Linked DNA regions of Homo sapiens. The protein of the gene in region 2 purifies or fractionates together with the protein of the main gene of each other region. This does not show direct contact. Each region holds a gene or a part of one and is shown on either strand. Other genes may lie near its edges.

What was found. The genes of interacting proteins can lie anywhere in the genome.
Region 1: the proteins of RPH3A (region 2) and RAB8A purify together in Homo sapiens (affinity purification with mass spectrometry; 2 studies listed by BioGRID and IntAct, with this or other methods). This does not show direct contact.

Annotation. Positions count from the first base shown.
Region 1 is NC_000019.10:16,118,241-16,121,888, reverse strand, and holds part of RAB8A (ras-related protein Rab-8A), read right to left. Parts: coding exon 3,603-3,648; intron 140-3,602; coding exon 79-139; intron 51-78; exon of another isoform or gene 1-50. UniProt on the Homo sapiens protein: The small GTPases Rab are key regulators of intracellular membrane trafficking, from the formation of transport vesicles to their fusion with membranes.
Region 2 is NC_000012.12:112,798,169-112,801,816, reverse strand, and holds part of RPH3A (rabphilin-3A), read right to left. Parts: intron 1-3,648. UniProt on the Homo sapiens protein: Plays an essential role in docking and fusion steps of regulated exocytosis.

The DNA.
Region 1 (3,648 bases), on a different chromosome or scaffold from region 2:
CTTCGGTAACCAATGCACAGTGACGCTCCCATGTTGACTTAAAAAGCAGATAAAAACAACCAAACAAAAAGTCCCTACCATTGCACCCCTGTAGTAGGCCGTTGTGATCGTCCGAAACCGTTCCTGACCGGCTGTGTCCCTAAACATGAAGAGAAGGGATATTAGCAACATTAAAGGAAAATAACTGTCCTCAGTAGGAGACAAGGAGCATCTACCCGGGATGCCTGGCTTTCTCACCGTTCAGCCACTGTGATACCTTCTTCTGCTAAGGCAGCACCTTCTAATCTCCCTATTATTACAGGGAAGGACACTGTGGCCTGGAGGGGTCATTTGATGTGGCAGAGCCATGATGGGATCCCTGACCCATGCGCCTTCTCCTCTTCTGCACCTTTGCTTCCAGGGAATTCTCCCTGGAGTTTCTGGTTCACAGAAGAGCCAGTCATGTGGCTCAGGAACATAGCTCTTGCTGTTGAGGGTGGCTGGGACTCAGGAAAAGCTTTCAGGCCTGCCATCTTGGTTTGAATGATGGGGAAAGTCCCTCCTCATCTGCATGACAAGGAACACAGGGCCTATTGCCCGGGAGGTGATGCCTGGGTAAGACATACCCATGCCCAGTCCAGCTCCTGGCTTGAAGGGTACTTAGTGTTTGGTTTAAAGGTAGGTAACCTAACTGGCCGGGCGCAGTGGCTCACATCTGTAATCCTAGCACTTTGGGAGGCCGAGGCAGGTGGACCACCTGAGGTCAGGAGGTTGAGACCAGCCTGGCCAACTTGGTGAAACCCCGTCCCTACAAAAAATACAAAAATTAGCCAGGCATGGTGGCACGTGCCTGTAATCCCAGCTACCTGGGAGGCTGAGGCAGGAGAACTGCTGGAACCCAGGAGGTGGAGGCTGCAGTGAGCCGAGATTGCACCACTGTACTCCAGCCTGGGTGACAGAGCAAGACTCCGTCTCAAAAAAAAAAAAGGTAACCTAACTGGCCTGGTGCAGTGGCTTACATCTGTAATCCCAGCACTTTAAGAGGCCGAGGCGGGTGGATCACCTGAGGCCAGGAGTTCGAGACCGGCCTGACCAACACAATGAAACCTCATCTCTACTAAAAATACAAAAATTAGGCGGGCATGATGGCGTGGATCTGTAGTCCCAGCTACTTAGGAGGCCGAGACACAACAATCGCTTGAACCTGGGAGGTGGAGGTTGCAGTGACCTGAGATCGTGCCGCTATATTCCAGCATGGGTGACAGAGTAAGACTCTGTCTCAGGAAAAAAAAAAAAAAAAGCCAGGCGTGTTGGCTCACTCCCGTAATCTCAGCACTTTGGGAGGCTGAGGCCAGCAGATCACCTGAGGTCAGGAGTTTGAGATCAGCCTGACCAACATGGTGAAACCCTGTCTACTAAAAATACAAAAGTTAGCCAGGCATGGTGGCAGGTGCCTGTAATCCCAGCTACTCGGGAAGCTGAAGCACGAGAATTGCTTGAACCAAGGAAGTGGAGGTTGCAGTGAGCTGAGATCATGCCACTGCACTCCAGCCTGGGTGACAGAGTGAGACTTTGTCAAAAAAAAAAAAAAAAAAATTAAAGGTGACCTAACTGATTGGTGACAGAGCCAGGGCAAGACTCAGGTCTTTTGTCTCCAAGCCCAGGGTTCCTCCCACGGCCCTGCTGGGACCCGGAGGGCTCTATACGTCTGGATTGTGCAGAAACACCTTGCTTGGAGCTAAGCTGACTTTCTGACACCAGCAGCAGGAGACATGAGTGGTTAAAAACAGTCATTTTTGCCAGGTGCGGTGGCTCACGCCTGTAATTCCAGCACTTTGGGAGGCCGAGGCGGGTGGATCACCTGAATTCAGGGGTTCGAAGCCAACCTGGCCAACATGGCGAAACCCCGTCTCTACTAAAAATACAAAATTAGCCGAGCGTGGTGGCAGGCACCTGTAATCCCAGCTACTTGGGAGGCCGAGGCAGAAGAATTGCCTGAACCCAGGAGGCGGAGGTTGCAGTGAGCCAAAATCGTGCCACTGCACTCCAGCCTGGGCAACAAGAGCAAAACTCTGTCTCAAAAAAACAAAGAAACAAAAAAAAAAACCAGTCATTTTTTTTTCAACTACAGTCCTTAGAAGAGTTTTGAGTCACTAACCTCACCACGATTGCTAAGAGCAGAAGCAGGAAGGCAGGAGGAAAGTGAAACTTCTGCTTGCTGATGCAGTGTCACTTTGGACTTGGGAACAAAGGGTGACATGGCACCAACGTGCTGGAAGTGGAGAAACTTCCATGGCTTGGAACTTACAAGGCAGCCAGAGCTTGACTTACTACCAATGTCTGCAGGATGAACTGCAAGTTAAACCTACCCGACTCCCAAAGTCAGATTAAGAGGTGAACAGTAGGGCCGGGCGTGGTGGCTCACGCCTATAATCCCAGCACTTTGGGAGGCCGAGGTGGGTGGGTCACCTGAGGTCGGGAGTTGGAGACCAGCCTGACCAACATGGAGAAACCCCGTCTCTACTAAAAATACAAAATTAGTTGGGCGTGGTGGTGCATGCCTGTAATACCAGCTACTTGGGAGGCTGAGGCAGGAGAATCACTTGAACCCGGGGGGCAGAGGTTGCGGTGAGACAAGATCGCGCCATTGCACTCCAGCCTAGGCGACAAGAGCGAAACTCCGTCTCAAAAAAAGAAGAAAAAAAAAGAAGAGGTGAATAGCACCTGGAGTCAAGGGTAGCTGTGGGGCTCCCTGAAACTGGCAAGTGGGGGTGACCGGTCAAACTTTGAGACTTGAGGGAGGATGACTTCGTGGCCCATCTCCTGGCACACTGCTCCCACTCAAAGGCACTTGCCTGGTTTGGGTGACAGGGAAATTGCACCATGCTCTTAAATGTGACTTCTCTTTGTTTTGCTCAGGGCCAGTGACTCTGTGCGAGTGGCATGTGTGCAGGGCAGGACCCCACTATACCCGCCACCTGAACTCAGTCTCAGCAAACTAGAATCAGGCCAGCGATGGCGACTTGGAGTCTCCCCACTTCCCTAATTGTATGTGCATGGGAAGTCACCCTTAGTTCTCAGGAATGGAAACAGGTCTCAACATGGGGCCCGGCCCTCCGCTTAATTTCGGTTTGGGGTTTCGGTCTGTACGCTAGGAAGGGAGGCCAGGCCTGCCCCAGGGGAGAAAAGAGGAAGTGAAGTTGGACCTTTATGCTTCTGAGTGGGTTGAGAGGCTCAAAAGGAAACTCTCGGCTGGGGCATCTCACAGTCCCTGCAGGCGTCACCAGCACCTGGCACTGAGAGGGCTCTCTTCCCGTTCAACAGAAGCAGCCCACTCTGAAGGCCAGACCCAGATGGTGCCCACTGTGGAACACTGAGCTAGCCAGGGCTGGGCAGCTTTGTGCCTATGATGCTGTAGGCCCTGGTGCCCTGCAGCCAGCAGAGGACAGCTCTCTGGGCTGGGTATAAACCTCCAGGAGCTTCTGGAGAAAGCCCCATGTGCCAGGACTGGGCACCAAGAAATGGAGGCCAAGGTCACAGGGACGGTGGAGGGAGAAGGCCAAGGGCTTCTGGCTTGAAGCCATTGCCAGGTGGAGAGAATGACAGAGAACAATGACTCTTACCATATCTGCAGTTTAATTCTCTTGCCATCGAGCTCTATGGTCCTAA
Region 2 (3,648 bases):
TTGTCTATGAATGGAGGGGAATGGGGTATGAGGAAAAAAGAGGATAAATAATGAAAAATGGAGGAAGAGGCGGGCAAGGATCAATGATGGCTGTGTACCAGGAAGGGAAAAATAACTCAACTCTCATCATCTCGCACCCTAACAAAGATTCTTCTAATCTACAAAGCCCAAGAGTCCTCCGTGAATAACAGACAGGCTACAAATGAGGCCAGTTCCCCTCTCATTATAATTAAAACCACAGTCCCCCTCCGGGTCACCAACACGAGTGTGCACCATTTATTTCTCCCTCGGGAGCTTTCCTCGAAGCACTTATCCATCGTTCAGATGAGAAGACATGCCTGGACCCCTCTGCGGAAGTTGGCCAAGGCTGGCTACATAGGCCTGCCCAGTCAGATAAACCCTTCCAAGGAAAAGAAAAAGGAAGAAAGAACATCTACAGAAACAGCGGCAGGTTCTATCTGAAAGGCAAGCCTGCTGCATGCTCTGTGTGATGAGTCTCCTTCCCCGCCAAGGGCCCAGCTCCTGCTCCAAATGCTGGCTTCTCCTGCTTTCATCCTTAGGTGCAAGCCCAGTCCGGCTGGTTCTTTTTTGAATGGGCCTAGCTAGCTCCAGGAACAACAGGTTCAGATCAGATCAGAGAGGAAGCTGCAGACACCAGAAGCTCACGTCTTCCATCACATCCAGCAGCCTTTCCCGCAGCCCCTGGAGAAAGGCTTGGCCAGACACCCCAGCTTGCCACTTCACAGGGTGTCATCCCCTTTGCCAAGTTACGATATCCTGCTTCATGCTGATAGATTAATCCAGCCACTATTCATGGGAGAGAAAAGAAAAAAAAACAAAAAACCCACGCTGCTGCCTTTTCTTCCGGGGAGAGGGGAACCGTGCATTTTAGCTAGCGTGGAACGGGCATTTGCAGAGCTCCCTGAACGGCCTTGACTCTGCACACACTGCTGGGTTCTTGTCTCTTAACCCATTGGCCCTTGGTTACAGCCAAGGCCCCTCTCCATGTCCCCAGGATCACAACTGCTGCACCATTGCCAGGAATAGTTCCAGTCCCACTGGAGTGGACCCTGATTGCTCTGGCCTTCTCCCCTTATGTCTGATCCATCAGTAAAGCCCGTCTGCACTCCCGCAGAATTCACCCCAAATGTCACCACCTTCTTCTCTGCTACCACCTGGTCCCTGCCCCATCACAGCTCCCCTCACTGGTCCCCTGGCTTCCATCCCACCTCCTGCACTCCCCTCTCCACTCAGAGACCAAAACAATCATTACTAACATTGTAAATTAGGTCACATCACTCTAGCATAAAACGCTCCCTGCAAAATAAAATCGAACCCAGACTCCTTGGCTACCCTGGGAGGTCCTGTCTAACCAGATCTGGAGGTCCTGATCTGAACCTGTTGTTCCTGTCTCCCTTTGTCCCCATCACGTGACCCTCACCCCACTCACACCAGCCGACTGTCTGTCCCTTGGGGCCACCACAGTTGTCTCTGCTTTTGCACTTACTGCCCCCACTTCCCAGGTGTGGCTCATCCCTCCCTTCACCATCTACTCATGGCTATTTCCTCCTAGAAACTCAGCCTCCACTGGCTGCTGTTTTTATAAGTTAGTCTCGCCCCTCCCTCCCCCAACCCATCACTTGTCATTCTCCATCGAGTCTTCCTATCTCCTTCCTTCATGGCACTTCACGCGGTCTGGAGTTTTCTTGTTTATGTGTTTACTTGTTTATTGGTTTTGCCACCCACTGGGCTGTCGGCTTCAGGGGGCAGGGAACTCCGGCTCCCTCACTGCTGAGTCTGCAGTGCCTAGAACAGTGTACAAGACTTGTCTGGAAAGGAGGGAATGGGGGAATGAGTCTAGAGCAGGGGTTCTCACAGTGTGGTCCCTGGGCCAGCAGCATCAACACTGCCTGGGAACTCGTTTGATGTGCAAATTCTTAGGCTCCATCCTAGTCCCACTGAATCACAAACTCCGTGTTTTAACAACTCCTGCAAGGGGTTCTGATGCAGGCTCAAGTTTGAGAAGCTTGGGCATTGAACCATCTGCAATCTCTACCCTATATCCCCCGGGTGACCAATGAGCGAATAACTAGCTGGGTGATCAGTCTTGTCAGGGACAGGGGTTAGGGAAGGTGAAGGGAGTAAGTCTCCTGCCCATGACTGACCTCTGAGCTCTGAGGGAAAGGCCTTTGTGTGTCTAGATAGTCCATGCCGGAGCCATGCAGAGAATGCCAAGCCTGGGAGGGCTTCAGAACCACTGTGTGCCACCAGAGCAGAAAGGCAGGCAACTCACCCAGAAAGCTGAATCTTTGGCTTTTTGAAAATTCTACAAAATTCCAAGCATTTGGCTTGGAGGTAAGATGACCAACTCATCACAGTTTGCCCAGTACTCTTTCCATTCTTTTTTGTTGTTGTTTTGTTTTGTTTTAGACACAGGGTCTCACCCTGTCACCGAGGCTGTAGTACAGTGGCACAACCACAGCTCACAGTAGCCTCAGCCTCCTGGGCTCAAGTGATCCTCCTGCCTCAGCCTCCCAAGTAGCTGGGACTACAGGTGTGTGCCACCATGCCCAGCTAATTGTTTAACTTTTTTATAGAGACAGGAGTCTCACATGTTGCCCAGGCTGGTCTCAAACTCCTGGCTCCAAGCGATCTTCCTGCCCTGGCTTCCCAAAGTGCAGGGATTTACAAGTGCGAGCCATCATCCCTGGTCTGCCTCTCAGTTTTAACACAAAGTCCTATATCCCAGGACCCCCTTCAGCTCCAAGCAAAGCTGAATGGTTGGTGACCCTACTTGGAGCCCTCATCACCTGGAGTCTCATGAATTCACAAATGCATTCCCTTTACAAGTAATTTCTGTGTGTCTTAAAGATGAGATGAGGAAGGCAGAGGAGTTAGGAGAGGAGGAAGACGGAGAGAGAGAGAGAAAAGGAAAGGAAGAGAGGCCAGGGGCAGAGGAGAGAGAAAGGGAGAGAGGGAAAGATGGGGAGAAAAGAGAGACTGCAAGGAGAAAGCAGGGAATTATTTAAGGGGTGGGAAAAGTAAGGAGACAGGGGCAGGGAAAAAGGAGAGAGAGGGGGAGAGATAAAGACAGAGACTTAGGGGCTTAGCACCACAGTGACAGAGGAAAAACACAGGAAGGCAGAGACGGAAAGGGGAAAGGGGGCAGGGAGGAAGATGTGCAATGGAGCGGACCACACAGATGCCATTTGGCAGCACCTTGCATGAAAAGCCTCCCAACGAACTTCGAGAAACCATCTCTCTTCTCTGCAGCCCCAGAATGCCGCCCCGCCATCAATGGCTGGCACCAAAACCTGCTTACATAATATGTTCTCTGCTGAAAGCTGCTTCCATTCACAAGTCACCACTCGTCATTGTGTAGGTGCATTAAAAAGGAAGAAAAGGAAAAGAAAGAGAGGAAAAAGAAAGAAAAATGCAGCTGAATGAACTCACTCAGATTATATTGAGAGATGAGAAGATATTTCCCCCCCTCGCTCTCTAAATAAATCCTTCATGAACCAAACATCATTATGATGCTGTCAGATGAGTTTCCTCTTGTTGATTAATTGCAGGGGGTGGTAAAAAACCCAGCTTCCTGAGGCATGTTATCTTGCTCACTGGATGGATTACTAAACCAGAGTCTGACAG